Linked DNA regions of Homo sapiens. The protein of the gene in region 1 interacts with the protein of each later gene in a pairwise test. Each region holds a gene or a part of one and is shown on either strand. Other genes may lie near its edges.

Region 1 (7,876 bases):
CCCAAATGAGCTCAACTCAGAACTTCTACTGAGGACCCCTGGACTGACCCACTGGCCCTTTCACTGGCCTAGAGAGTTCCCCTCTGGAGGACACTACAACTGCAGGGCCCCTTCTTCACCCCTATCCGGCAGGAAGTAGCCCAGAGCGGTCATCACCCAGTTCCCAACAGCTGTTGGGTGACCTGTTTAGAGGGATAATTGAGAGGTGAGGCCAGCTGGACTTCCTGAGTTGAGTGGGGACTTGGGGAACTTTCCTGTCTTACAAGCGGATTGTAAAATGCACCAATCAGCACTCTGTAAAACGCACCAATCAGCAGGATTCTAAAAGTAGCCAATCACAGGGAGGATTGAAAAAAGGGCACTCTGATAGGACAGAAACGGAACATGGGAGGGGTCGATAAGGGAATAAAAGCTGGCCACCCCCCCCCAGCCAGCAAGGCAACCCGCTAGGGTCACCTTCCACGCTGTGGAAGCTTTGTCCTTTCGCTCTTCACAATAAACGTTGCTCACTCTTTGGGTCCATGCCATCTTTAAGAGCTGTAACACTCACTGCAAAGGTCCGCAGCTTCATTCTTGAAGTCAGCAAGACCACAAACCCACCAGCAGGAACCAACTCTGGACACATTATCTCCTTTACAGCTTGGGTCCAGAGAGCTGCCTTAGACTCTCCAGTGAATCTATTCAAACAGCTGCCTCTGTTATCTTGACTCATCTCAGATTTCGTCCACCTGAGACACGTGCTGGTACTAGGAATGTAAGACTGTCTGTATTATTTTGGCTTGCTCCAGGTTAGGGAGAAGCCCGTGTGAAGCTTCAACTGACCATGTGTTTCATTTCTAGCTTTGATGTCTGGGCACTGATTTCCCTAGATTTAACTATTTGCTCAATGTTAAGGCAGTTTTGTGGAAATTTGTCTGTGTAACAGAAGTGCTGTGCAGGTCTGTCTGTGTGACTGTCATGCAGGCCTGTCTGTGTGATTGTCAGGGAGAATTGACCTGCCACAAATTGGGAGGAAAAGCAGTCTGGATACCATGAACCAATTCTTGGTGTTGCTAGGACCTGGTCTGTCAGTAAAGGAAAACCAAGGCAAAACATGCTTTGACCACTGTCCTAGTTATAGATTTATTACTTATGCTACAAATTTGTCCTTTTTTTCTGCTTTGTGATAATGGAGATGGGCCTTATAAATATTTCTCTTTTACCCATTACCAGTGTAGGGTGCTGGAAGACAAGGAAGGAGGAAGAAGCTTCCTTTCCAAGTTTCAGTGTTGAGGTAGAATAGGGTCTAGAGGAAGGGAACCTAAGGCCAATCACGCTGACTTTCTAGAACTAGATCAAAAGGAAACCCCACTTTCCATGCCCAAGTAACAAAAGGACCAGAGGCTATTGCCTTTGCAATCCCTCACCTTTTTTGCATGGCAGATGAAAAATTGAAATTACTTCTGATTGGCCGGGCATGGTGGCTCACACCTGTAATCCCAGCACTTTGGGAGGTCAAGGCAGGTGGATCACCTGAGGTCAGGAGTTCGAGACCAGCCTGACCAACATGGAGAAACTCCATCTCTACTAAAAATACAGAATTAGCCGGGTGTTGTGGCACATGCCTGTAATCCCAGCTACTCGGGAGGCTGAGGCAGGAGGATTGTTTGAACCCAGGAGGTGAAGGTTGCAATGAGCTGAGATTGCACCACTGCACTCCGGCCTGGGCGACAGAGCGAGACTGAGTCAAAAACAAACAAACAATAAAAAAACCTACTGTTATGCGTACTGTAGGAAGCAGCCCTACTGGGTCTGTGGGTTTTTCTCTTCGTGTGTGGAGACAAGAGATCATAGAAATAAAGACACAAGACAAAGAGATAGACAAAAAGACAGCTGGGTCCGGGGAACCACTACCACCAAGGTGCAGAGACCAGTAGCGGCCCCGAATGCCTGGCTGCACTGTTATTTATTGGATACAAGACAAGGAGGGAGGGTAAGGAGTGTGAGCCATCTCCAATGATAGGTAAGGTCACGCGAGTCACGTGTCCACCAGACAGGGGGCCCTTCCCTGTTTGGCAGCTGAGGTGGAGAGAGAGAGAGGACAGCTTACGCCATTATTTCTTCTATGCATTTCAAAGACTTTAGTACTTTCACTAATTCCGCTACTGCTGATTAGAAGGCAGAACCAGGTGTACAGGGTGGAACATGAAAGTGGACCAGGAGTGTGACCACTGAAGCACGGCATCACAGGGAGACGTTTAGGCCTCTGGATGGCTGCGGGCGGGCCTGACTGATGTCAGGCTTTCCGCAAGAGGTAGTGAGCAGAGTCTTCTCTAACTCCCCCGGGGAAAGGGAGACTCCCTTTCCCTGTCTGCTAAGCAATGGGTGCCTTCCCCAGGCACTGACGCTACTGCTAGACCAAGGTCCGCTAGGTAACGGGCTCCTTCCCAGGGGCTGGCATTACCGCTAGACCAGGGAGCCCTCTGGTGGCTCTGTCCAGGCATAACAGAGGGCTCACCCTTGTCTTCTGGTCACTTCTCACCATGTCCCTTCAGCTCCTATCTCTGTATGGCCTGGTTTTTCCTAGGTTATGATTGTAGAACAAAGATTATTATAATATTGGAATAAAGAGTAATGCTACAAATGATTAATGATATATACAATCATATCTATAATCTATTTCTAGTATAACTACTCTTATTCTATATATTTTCTTTATTATACTGGAACAGCTTGTGCCCTCGGTCTCTTGCCTTGGCACCTGGGTGGCTTGCCACCCACGCGTACAAAGAAGGCAGAAAGGAAATACAGAAAATTCAAACACTGCTGGGATTCTGAATGTTGTTTGTCTTTTCCTTATACTTTTCCTTTAAAATAAAAAACTACAATGAGAACATAATGCTTCATAATAGAAAAAGATTTACACTTAAAAAACATAGATGATGAAAGGGAGCTGGCTAGGGCACCAGGGACAGGCATTGGGAAGGTGACCTCAAGCCGCAGTGAAGAAGTAATGAACAACCTAGGGACCAATACAGAAAGGCCACCTGTGGTTCACTTATATAACACATCTCTACCTCATATTATACCAAAATACATTCCCTGAGCAGTAAAGAATTATACGTTTTAAAAAGCAGTACAATTTGGAAGTAAATTAGGAAGTATTTTTATATTTTAGAGTTTGGGGAGACATTTAAAAGCAAACTAGGAAACTCAGAAACCATTTTACTAAAAGTATAGATTCATTGGGGATATATAAAATTGAATATATATATTTTTGAGATGGAGTCTTTCTATTGTCGCCCAGGCTGGAGTGCAATGGCGCGATCTCAGCTCACTGCAACCTCTGCCTCCCAGGTTCAAGCGATTCTCCTTGCCTCAGCCTCCTGAGTAGCTGGGATTACAGGCACCCGCCACCATGCCCAGCTAATTTTTTGTATTTTTAGTAGAGATGGGGTTTCACCATGGTAGCCAGGCTGGTCTTGAACACCTGACCTCAGGTAATCCACCGGCCTCGGCCTCCCAAAGTGCTGGGATTACAGGCATGAGCCACTGCGCCTTGCCTAAAATTAAATATTTTATATGGATATCATATTATAAACTAAGAGGAGCAAAATTATGTTATCAACTCAATTGTTGCATAAACATTTGATAGTGTTCATAAAAAATTATTGATAAAATATCTTTATAAACCTGGTTTAAAAAGATTAACTTGATAAGAGGTGCAACCTGTTGTAAACAGCTTACTGAGGAACTTTGGTAATCATTACCGACCAAGACAAGAATGCTTAATTTCTTTCCGACTTATAGTTGAGGAAGCCCTAAACAAACAATAAGAAAAAGAAATGACTCTGGGTGTGGTGGCTTACACCTGTACCCCTAGCACTCTGGGAGGCTGAGGTGAGAGGATAGCTTGAGCTCAGGAGTTTGAGACCAGCTTCAGCAACATAGTGCGATCCCATCTCTACAAAAAAATAAAGAAAATAGCTGGGTGGGGTGGTACGCGACTGTATTCTCAGCTACTTGGGGGGCTGAGATGGGACCATCACTTGAGCTGGGGAAGTCAAGGCTGCAGTGAGCCATGGTCGCGCCACTGCACTCCAGTCTAGGCGATAGAATGAGACATTGCCTCACATAAAGAAATGAGTTATACACATTAAAACAATGAAAATATGCAGAGAAAATATTTATATTTGATGGTTCAAATAATAAACTGACAGCTATCAGAATTCAGCAAGTTTCCAGGAAAAAGGTTCTATTTAAATAATTATCAATGGCTTCCCTCTACAGGAGAAGTTATCAATACAACAATGAAAGGGAAAACTAAAAGGCCCAAAAGGACTGAGTGAGTGTCAAGGAGAGTCTGTTTCCTATTAGAGCTGCAAATATATGTGTCCTGTGTACAGGACTGTAGCAACGTGGAGGATAGGTAGAAACCCGATCGATGAGCATCCTGTATCCGTGGTAGCTGAGAACCTGGATGGGAAGCCCTAGCCTTAGCCCCATCCCTAGGCCTTGTCACTTAAGCCCCGCCCAGCCCTCGTCTCCGCCCCCTAGGAATTTCTACCAAGCCCCGCTCCCAATCTGGTTCCACCTTTAGCCCCGCCCCTTGGAGTATTTAAAAGGCCACGCCCCTAGGTCTAGCCCCAGTTCCGCCCCTCAGGCCGAGTCATGCAAGTCCAGTTCAGGGTTCTGTTTCTTCTCTGTTTACTCCAAATCATGAAGAAACTAGGATTTCTCATCCACTTGCGGCTGGAACCAGCCTTGGCGCTCCTTTGCATCCCGCTCCTACCTGCTCCACCCCCTTCACCTCAAGTCCCGCTTCCCAGGCCCCGCCCCATACGCCATTTGCAGCGCCGAAAGAGGAATCAGAAGTGTGCTTCTGCGCATGCGCGAGTCGACAGCCTTGTCACCCTACGCCTCCGCCCGCGTCTGAGGAACATTTTTGCCTCCGCCCGCTTCCTGTCCTGCCCTGCCCCGCCCCGCCCTGCCTGCCCCGGGTCGGGTCCGCGGGAGACCGAGGGCTGGGTTTGGGAATCGGCGGTCTAAGGGCTGCCTCCCCGCCACTCCTTGTCCGGACCCCGCGCCCGGGGCCTCCCGCCGCCGCGGCGCCTCCTCAGAGAGCCCGGGTCAGCTGCCCCTGTGGCCGCGGCTGGTCCCAAACTCACTGAATCGGGAACTCTGGTCTGGGTACAGAAATCGGGGTGATTCTGATGCAGGCGAGAGTTGGAGAACCAATGTCGTAGTTCATCAGCCTCCGAAAGCATCCTTTGCTCTCTTTCCAGAAAGGAAGAGCATCTCTGCCATTCGTGTCTCAAGGACAAGCGCTTCAGCCTCGTTCTCTGTGAGCTGATCTGTGGATCGCGGCGTGTCGGGTGAGCACGGGGTGACATTTGCCTCGGCTCGGTCCCCTCCTGTCCCCTCTTTATGCATTAGGTAGTGTTTGGGCCAAGCGCGGTGGTTCACGCCTGTAATCCCAGCACTTTGGGCGGCCGAGGCGGGCGGATCGCTTGAGCCCAGGAGTTTGAGGCCAGCCTGGGCAACATAGCAAGATCCCGTCTCTACCAAAAAAAAAAAAAAAAAAAAAAGTAAAATAAAAGGTGCTCTCCTGTGTTCCCAGCTACTCGGGAGGCAGAGGTTGCAGTGAGCTGAGATCGCATCACTGCACTCCAGCCTGGGCAACAGAGCGAGACACTGTCTCAAAAAAACAAAAAGATAGTATTTGGTCTCTGGATATTATATTCTGCCTGTGGACATCAGTTTGATACATTATATTCAAGTGAAAGTGAACTGATGCATTTTGTCATTAATGATGCATTTGAATCATTTGTCTATAGATTGGTTAAATTTCACACAGAAAATTTGGTCATCTGTCAGTTTCAATCTTTTCCCTTTTTATTCCTTGCAGTTTCCATTTCTTTTCATTTCTTTACTGCACTTGCCAGGACCTCCAGTACAATGTCCGACAGAATAGCATGTAATTTACATCCTGTCTTGTTTCTGATTCCAGAGGGAATTATTCTATCATTTCACCATTAAATAGGATGTTTGCTGTAGGTGTTTGTAGGTTTTTTTCCTTTCTTTATTCCTATTTCTTTTTAGAAAATAGGAGTCTCGCTCTGTTGCCCGGGCAGGTCTCGAACTCATGGGCTCTCCGCCTCCCAAAGTGCTGGAATTACAGGCATGAGCCACTGCACCCGGCCTGACCGTGTTTTAAACCGCTGATTTTTTTTTCTTTAATTACTGGGTGTAATCAGGTTTTAGATCACTGCTTGAAAGTTGTACTACTTTCTAGAAATTCATTAATTACCTGTGCATCTTCATATTTATTCCTTAAATTTTTTCTATATTCTCCTTATGATATCTGTAATTATGATTAATTCTTGTTCATTTTTTTTTTGTTGTTGTTGTTTATGCCCTGTTGCTCTTAAAATTGCTGAGTCTGTTGCTGGCTGCAGTGGCGCATATCTGTAGTCCCAGCTGGTGGGAAGCTAAGGCAGATGGATCGCTTGAGCCTAGGAAATGAGATCAACCTGGGAACATAAAGAGTCTGTCTTAAACAATAAATTAAATTAAAAAATTTTTTTAAAAAGCTGAGTTTGTCAGTTTCATTAGTTTTTCTTTTTGCAAAGGATGCTTTTTTAGCTTTTCTGATTTTGTTTACTATGTTTTAAAAAAGATTATTTTCTATTTTCTTTCTAAACTTTTATGCTGGTCTTTATTCAACTTTATATATCAATAGTCTAGCCTATTAATACCGATTTTTTTTTTTTTTTTTGAGACAGAGTCTCGCTGTGTCTCCCAGGCTGGAGTGCAGTGGCGTGATCTTGGCTCACTGCAACCTCTGCCTCCTGGGTTCAAACAATTCTCTGCCTCAGCCTCCCAAGTAGTGGCGATTACAGGCACCTGCCACCATGCCCAGCTAATTTTTTTGTATTTTTAGTAGAGGTGGGTTTCACCATCTTGGCCAGGCTGGTCTTGAACTCCTGACCTTGTGATCCACCCACCTTGGCCTCCCAAAGTGCTGGGATTACAGGTGTGAGCCACCGTGCCTGGCCAGTACTGATTTTTTTTCCTCTAGGAGTTGATAATGCTTATAAATATATAATAGATATACTAAACCCTCTGAAATTCCAGCATGATCTGAAATAGTTATTTTAATTTTCTGCTTCTACCCTGCCACATTACCTGTCCTGACTTGCTAAAGATAAATATGTTACGTGTCTCCTTATCCCTATAATGTGCTACATTTTTTATATAGCATGTATCTCTACCTGATGTATTTTGTTTAATGTCTTACCCAAAATATTATAACATTCATTTGCTTCAGGATTTTTCTTTTTTATTTTTCTATGCCTTATTCCTTGTGACTTCATGTAGTAGGGTCAGGATAAATGTCACCTAAATAAACATGAAACGAAGGAGGTAAGGGCTATAAGGGAAGCATCGTTGCCCAAGACATAGGCCTTAGGAAAAGGAGCTCAAAGATAACATATTTGATTATTTATTTATTTTATTTATTTTGAGACAGAGTCTGGCTCTGTTGCCCAGGCTGGAGTGCAGTGGTGTGATTTCGGCTTACTGCAACCTCTGCCTCCTGAGTTCACACAATTCTCCTGCCTCAGCCTCCTGAGTAGCTGGGACTACAGCTGTGCGCCACCATGCCCGGCTGATTTTTGTAGTTTTAGTAGAGACAGGGTTTCGCCATTTTGGCCAGGCTGGTCTTGAACTCCTGACCTCATGTGATTCCCCCGACCTTGGTCTCCCAAAGTGCTGGGATTACAAGCATGAGCTACCACGCACAGCATATTTGATTAGAATGCTTCATTTGTCCACTCTCTGTAGTGCCCAATAGGGTTCTAGGCTAAATCCTGGTAAAACTAGGGAATAAGGGGCT
Region 2 (7,102 bases), about 40 Mb from region 1:
TGGTTAGATGGAAACTCTAACGCCACTTGGGAGGTACCCGCCCCTGGCCCACCCCTGCACCCTGGACGCTTCCCCAGACTCTACCCTCTTTATCTCTAACACTGAGCTCTGTATCTGCCCCCCAAACCAGCCTCCCCTCCCCTCCCCTGCCCCTGGTTTCCTTCCTTTCCCTTTTTTTCCTTTTTTTTCTTGAGGCGGAGTCTCTCTCTGTCGCCCAGGCTGGAGTGCAGTGGCGCAACCTCAGCTCACTGCAACCTCCGTCTCCCGGGTTCAAGCGATTCTCCTGCCTCGGCCTCCTGAGTAGCTGGGATTACAGGTGCGTGCCACCACGCCCGGCTAATTTTTTTGTATTTTTTAGTAGAAATGGGGTTTCACCGTGTTAGCCAGGATGGTCTCGATCTCCTGACCTCGTGTTCCGCCCACCCTGGCCTCTTAAAGTGCTGAGATTACAGGCGTGAGCCACCACACCCGGCCCTGCCCCTGGTTTTCTATCTCAGGGCGACCCCATGTCTCCCTGTCAGGGTGGGCTCAGGTGCTCTCTCCACCCGCTCTCTGCCTATTCTCCCCCTAGCCTATCAGCCCCTGTGCCATCCCTCCTTCCCCCGACTCTCTTTGCCACAGACCCCTGTCTCTGTCCCCACACCCCAAGATGCAGCTTGGGTCTTGTCCTCTCCTTCCTGGACCACTGCCCCAGCCTCCCAGCCTTCAGTCTGTCCTCACCTCACATGCCTGCAGAAGGATCTCTTTTCTTTCAGAACTGACCCTGGCCTGCCCTTGCTCTGAGCCCTCCCACAGCACCACCCCAGGGCCCCTGGGACAGATTCTGGGGACACCTTGGTGGGTGGATCTGGGCTGGGGACATACATTGCAGAAGGAGCAGTAGCCACACAGGGACCCTGGCTGGTAGTTCCCATACTCCTGAGCATCCTGTGGACCTGCGGGGACAGGAGGGCAGCAGTGACCCAGGCTGACTCGGTTCCTTCCCACCCACACCAGCCCAGGCCACTTACCTGTGTCCTCACCGCTTTCCTCCTCGCTGGAGGCACCTCCAGCCTCCTCTCTCCTGTCCAGTGGGTTGGGGATGATGGTGAAGCGGGGCTCATCTTCCTCCAGCCCCTCCTCCTCCTCCTCTTCCTCCTCGCTGTGGTCTGGGCTCAGTGGGGCCCCAACCTCAGCCCTCTCTTCCCTCCTCTCCTCGTCTTCTTCCTCCTCCTCCTCCTCCTTGTCTTCCTCTTCTTCCTCCTCCTGGTTCAGGCTGAGGCCATGACCTTCCTCCTCATCCTCCTCATCTTCCTGGTCCCGGCTGCCATGATGGGTGCCTTTCTCTCCCTGCTCTGAACTTTCATCGTCTTCCTCATGGGAGCCGGGGTCCTCTTCCTTCTCCTTTTCCTCCTCAGAATCATCCTTCCTCAAATGGCTTCTATCCTTGACCACTGTGTGTCCTGGGGGGTGATGGCTCATCTCTTTGATGGACCCTCTTTGACCATGGCCAGTTTCTTCATCTTGGTGGCTTTGCCTGTGGCTGGGGGCCTGGTGGCCAAGCTCAGCAGAGACCTCCTCATCTTCCTCCCTGGGGACTCTGTGGTGGTGATGGTGAGGGACTTCTGTTTTATACTCATCTTGGAAGTCCTCTTCATCACTCTTGTGGCCTCGAGGTTGGTGGCTTGCAACATAGTGGCCGAACTGGACTGTGATCTCCTCTTCTTCCTCTTCCTCATCTACAAGGCCATGGTGGACATGTTGGGGACCCTGGTGCCAACGTTCAGTGGACACATCCTCATCTTCTTCCTCGTCTCTGTGGCCTTGGTGCCTGTGGTCAGGGACATGATGGTGGTGTTCACCTGAGACAGCCTCAACCTCTTCCTTTCTGTGGTCTTGGTGCCTGTGGGCCTGGTGTCCATACTCAGTGGAGACATCATCATCATCATTGTCATCTTCTTCATGGCTTCGGTGCCTGTGGCTGGGGTCGCGATGATGGTGTCCATCTGAGACATCTTCATCCTCTTCAATCCCGTGGCCTTGGTGCCTGTGAGCCTGGTGTCTATATTCAATGGAGACATCATCATCATCATCATCATCATCATCATCATCATCATCATCGTCATCTTCTTCATGGCCTTGGTGCCTGTGGCTGGGGCCATGATGATGGTGTCCATCTGAGACATCCTCATCCTCTTCACTCCCATGGCCTCGGTGCCTGTGGGCCTGGTGTCCATACTCAGTGGAGGCCTCCTCTTCCTCCTCCTCCTCCTCCTCCTCCTCTTCTCCTTCATCATCTTCCCCATCATGGCCTCGGTGTCCATGCCTGAGGATATGATGGTGATGCTCACTGGACACAACTTCATCCTCATCCTCGTCTTGATGGCTGTGGCTCCTGTGGCTGGGGAGGTGGTGCCTGTGCTCAGCTGAGTCTTCCGTGTCTTCACTCCCGTGGCCTCTGTGCCCACGGGCCTGCCCACCATGCTCTGCAAAGACCTCCTCACCTGAGACACCCTCATCTCCGACTTTGTGGTCTTGGGACCTGTGGCCTGGGAGTAGGTGCCCATATTCCTTGGAGACATCTTCATCCTCCTTTTCACGGTCTGGGTGGCTCCAGAAATGATGCCCATTCTCTGTGGAAACATCCTTGTTCTCATCTGGATGGTCTCTAGGGCTGTGGAGGTGGTGGCGAAGCTCTGCTGATGCCTCCTCGGAGAGCCCGGCGACTCCAGTGCTGTTGTTCCGGTTTCTGAAGCCTAGCCCATCCCCTCTGAGCTGCTGGGTCATGGCCGGGGGGAGGAGCAGGCTGGCCACCCCAGCCCAGAGGACAGAAGCGTGCAGCCATGGCCTATGGTGGCCCATGGGGACGGACAGGCAGCACTGGCTCCAGCTGCCTCTGCGGCAATGTGGACAAACGTTGGGGTCTTTGTCCCTTTGGGGTTGGTCTCTTTTTTTCTCTGTGTCTCTCCTTTGTCCTTTCGGTCTCTGTCCACCTTCCTCTGGTCCTTGCTGCCTGGCTCTGGACACCCCTCTGAGGCTGTCTCCGGAGCCCCCTGACCCCCCTCTGGGGCCCTCCCTCCCCATTCCCCAGCCAATAGGGTCCTTCCCCTCCCCTCTCTCCAGCTAAATTTACTCTCAGCCCTGAGTTATTCTGGGTCAGTCCCCGCCTGCCTGCCTCCTGCTCCTCCTCCTCCCAGCTGGGGAGGGGACCAGTGAGGGGTCTCTCCCTGGCCAGGAGACGGTGGCCAAGGGACTTGACTTTGAACTACCAACAAGCTCACGTTTGGCAGCTGCAAAGACAAAGGCTAGACTTTTAGCAGGTTTTTGGGGGAGCCTGGGGCACCTGGGGGAGGCAGAAGAGACTTATCAGAGGGGAGAGACTCCTGGGACGGAAGGACTGGGGGTTCGATTGCGGGGTGTTTCCAGCTGGAATGATACGTGCTGGTGAGAGAGTGATGTCAGTATTGAGGCCCTAGAATGGGGGGAAAGGAACATGGCCCCCAACACACGTGCCCATGACCTCCTGTCCCTGGAACTCAGATCTGGGGGCAGGGACTGGGCTAGGCCAGGGCTATAAATACAGCTGGGAGGGGTAGGGGGACTCAGGTTACGGAGGCCACAGCTGTCCCCATCACAGAGGGCTGGCAGGAGACAAGTGGCCTTGCCCGTCTCTGTGTGTCAGTATTTCCTACTCCTCACCCTTCATGACTGCCCCCACTAGGGTCTCCTTTCCTGTTCACGGGTCCTCCTCTCTCTTCAATTCTGTCATCTGCTCTCTCAGGGTCCCTGTCCCTCCTCCATGGGATTGCCTCTCCCTCTCACTCTGGGCTTCTGTCCCACTCTTATCTTAGTGTCAGTCCTCCCCCAAGTCTGTGTCCCTCTCTCTCCCCTAAATCTCTGGCCCCTCCTTTCTGAGTTCCTGCCCTTCCCCCAATTCTTTGGTTTTTGCATCCCCCTCTGCCCCTTGCCTCAGTCAAGGTGTCTCCTCCCCATCTCTGGCATCCACCTCTCTGGGTCTCTGTCCCCACTCTCTCTCAGAGTCTCTGTCCCCCTCTGTCTCAGAGTCTCTGTCCACCTCTCCCTGGGTCTCTGTCCCCCTCTCTCTGGGTCTCTGTCCCCCTCTCCCTGGGTCTCTGTCCCCCTCTCTCTGTGGATCTCTGTCCCCCTCTCTCTGGGTCTCTGTTCCCCTCTCTCTGTGGGTCTCTGTCCCCCTCTCTCTGTGGATCTCTGTCCCCCTCTCTCTGGGTCTCTGTTCCCCTCTCTCTGTGGGTCTCTGTCCCCCTCTCTCTCTGGGTCTCTGTTCCCCTCTCTCTGGGTCTCTGTCCCCCTCTCTCAGGGTCTCTGTCCCCCTCTGTCTCAGAGTCTCTGTCCCCCTCTCTCTGGGTCTCTGTCCCCTCTCCCTGGGTCTCTGTACCCCTCTCCGTGGGTCTCTGTCCCCTCTCCCTGGGTCTCTGTCCCCCCATCCCTGGGTCTCTGTCCCCCCCTCTCTGGGTCTCTGTCCCCCTCTCTCTGGGTCTCTGTCCTCCTCTCTCTCTGGGTCTCTGTTCCCCTCTCTCTGGGTCTCTGTCCCCCTCTCTCTGGGTCTCTGTCCCCGTCTCTCTGGGTCTCTGTCCCCCTCTCTCTGGGTCTCTGTCCTCCTCTCTCTCTGGGTCTCTGTTCCCCTCTCTCTGGGTCTCTGTCCCCCTCTCTCTGGGTCTCTGTCCCCGTCTCTCTGGGTCTCTGTCCCCCTCTCTCTGGGTCTCTGTCCCCCTCTCTCTGGGTCTCTGTCCCCTCTCCCTGGGTCTCTGTCCCCCTCTCCGTGGGTCTCTGTCCCCTCTCCCTGGGTCTCTGTCCCCCCCTCCCTGGGTCTCTGTCCCCCCCTCTCTGGGTCTCTGTCCCCCCCTCTCTGGGTCTCTGTCCTCCTCTCCCTGGGTCTCTGTCCCCCTCTCTCTGTGGGTCTCTGTCCCACTCTCTCTGGGTCTCTGTCCCACTCTCTCTGGGTCTCTGTCCCCTCTCCCTGGGTCTCTGTCCCCCTCTCTCTGTGGGTCTCTGTCCCCCTCTCTCTCTGTCTATCCCTGGGTCCCTGCTGCCCCACCTTCTGATTCTCTGTCCCCTAAGTCTTTGTCTCCCCCTCTTTGGGTTAAATTGTCCCCTCCCTGTCTGGCATCCTCCTTTCTGAGTCTGTTCCCTCTCCGCCACTGGCCCCCAACTCCTTCTGTTCCCATCTCGCGCTTGCCCTTGGAGTCTCCCCTGTGTGTCTCTCTCCCCCCGGCCCGGACCTCTGCACCCCCCAGGTCGCTGTCCCTCTGTCCCCTTATCGCGGCCTGGGACCCGCCCTCTCCCCGCCTCCCGCTTTGGCGTCTCCAAGACTCCCCGCCCCCCAGACCTCGCCCCGCCCCAGGCTAGGCTGGAAAGTGGAGGATCCGGTTTGCTCTGGGCGGGTCTGGAAGCAGAGCCGGCGGAGGGAGCGCCGGGGCCCTGGGCTGCAGGAGGTTGCGGCGGCCGCGGCAGCATGGTGGTGCCGGAGAAGGAGCAGGTGAGCGCCGGACCAGGGTCTGCGGGAGCGCGGAGCTGGGGACCTCGCCTCCAGGCTCCCAGAGAGGAGGGCGCTGGACACCCAGATTCCTGGGTCAGACGGAGGAGGGGGATGGGAGGGTCCAGGTTCCAGGGTCCAGGGCATGGGGGTCGAGACTCCTGAGTCTGGAGCGGGAGGGCGCTGGGGGCCCGGACTCCTGTGTCCGTGGGGAGCGCACGGGGTGGGTGGCTCTGTGTCCCATAGGACAGAACTGGGTGCCCTCTCACCCCACTTCCACCCCTACATTTGTTCCTGTCCCCAGAGCTGGATCCCCAAGATCTTCAAGAAGAAGACCTGCACGACGTTCATAGTTGACTCCACAGATCCGGGGTGAGGAGTTCGCCCCTGGACTGACCCCAGAGGGTCCGCGGCCCGCTGACCCCGCCCGCGGATGGTCACGCCCCAGCCCTGCTCCTTCCCCATTCCTGGACTCGGGGACCTTCCCAAGGGCGTTCCTTGCCGACGCTCTCCCTCTAGGAGCGTTTGGGTCTGTGTAGACACCCCTCATTCCCCATTCGCCATTCTCCCGCTCAGGGTCAGTGTAGACGCTCCAGGGCTCGGTTCTGCTTCTTTCCTCCCCGATGTCTCTTCTATGTGCTTCTGTCTCTTCGTGTCACTTTCTGTGTCTCTGTCTTTCCCTTTTGGGTATTTCTGTTTCATTCATTCATTCATTCATTCATTCATTCATTCATCCATCCATGCAAGAAACCCTCACTCAGCGCTCCCAAGGTCCCTTTAGCCTAATTCAACGGCCCTGCCAGGGTTCCAATTTCCCCTGGGACACGTGCTGTGTGGCTTCGGGCAAATCATTTCACCTCTCTGGGTCCCGTTTCTCATCTGGGCATCAAAAGAGGCTTGATCTCCTGGGGTTATTATGAGAATTAAACAAGTTAATGCTTGTGATATTCCTGGCACAGCGCCCAGCACAGGACGCTGGGAAATATCTGCAGCTCCCACTGGGAGGTGGCAATTATTACCGCGGGCGGGCCCTGTCTTGGTGGCCGGGGACACCAATTGAGCTAGATAGGGTGTGTGCGTCCGCGAGGAGCTCCCGCCCTTCAGTGACGGCCTCTCAAGCGGATCCAGGCTTTCTAGTTTTTTTTTTTTTTTTTTTTTTTTTGAGACGGTGTCTCGCTCTGTCCCCCAGGCTGGAGTGCAGTGGCGCGATCTCGGCTCACTGCAAGCTCCGCCTCCCGGGTTCACGCCGTTTTCCTGCCTCAGCCTCCCGAGTAGCTGGGACTACAGGCGCCCGCCACCACGCCCGGCTAATTTTTTGTATTTTAGTAGAGACGGGGTTTCACCGTGTTGGCCAGGATGATCTCGATCTCCTGACCTTGTGATCCGCCCGCCTCAGCCCCTCAAAGTACTGGGATTACAGGCGTGAGCCATCGCGCTGGGCCAATTTTTTGTATTTTTTTTTTAGTAGAGACGGGGTTGCACCGTGTTAGCCAGATGGTCTCGATCTCCTGACCTCATGATCCGCCGGCCTCGGCCTCCCAAAGCGCTAGGATTACAGGTGTGAGCCACCGCACCTGGCCCAGGCTTTCTAGTTTTTTGTTTTTTGTTTTT

Evidence for each region. Proteins that work in one complex are often made in the same cells at the same time.
Region 2: the proteins of ZNF699 (region 1) and HRC interact in binary tests that used the Homo sapiens proteins (3 or more experiments, as listed by UniProt).

What each region holds. Positions count from the first base shown.
Region 1 is NC_000019.10:9,306,828-9,314,703, reverse strand, and holds the start of ZNF699 (zinc finger protein 699), read left to right. Parts: upstream 1-4,865; 5' UTR 4,866-5,354; intron 5,355-7,876. UniProt on the Homo sapiens protein: May be involved in transcriptional regulation.
Region 2 is NC_000019.10:49,152,397-49,159,498, forward strand, and holds the start of HRC (sarcoplasmic reticulum histidine-rich calcium-binding protein precursor), read right to left. Parts: upstream 3,001-7,102; 5' UTR 2,842-3,000; coding exon 1,011-2,841; intron 936-1,010; coding exon 865-935; intron 1-864. UniProt on the Homo sapiens protein: May play a role in the regulation of calcium sequestration or release in the SR of skeletal and cardiac muscle.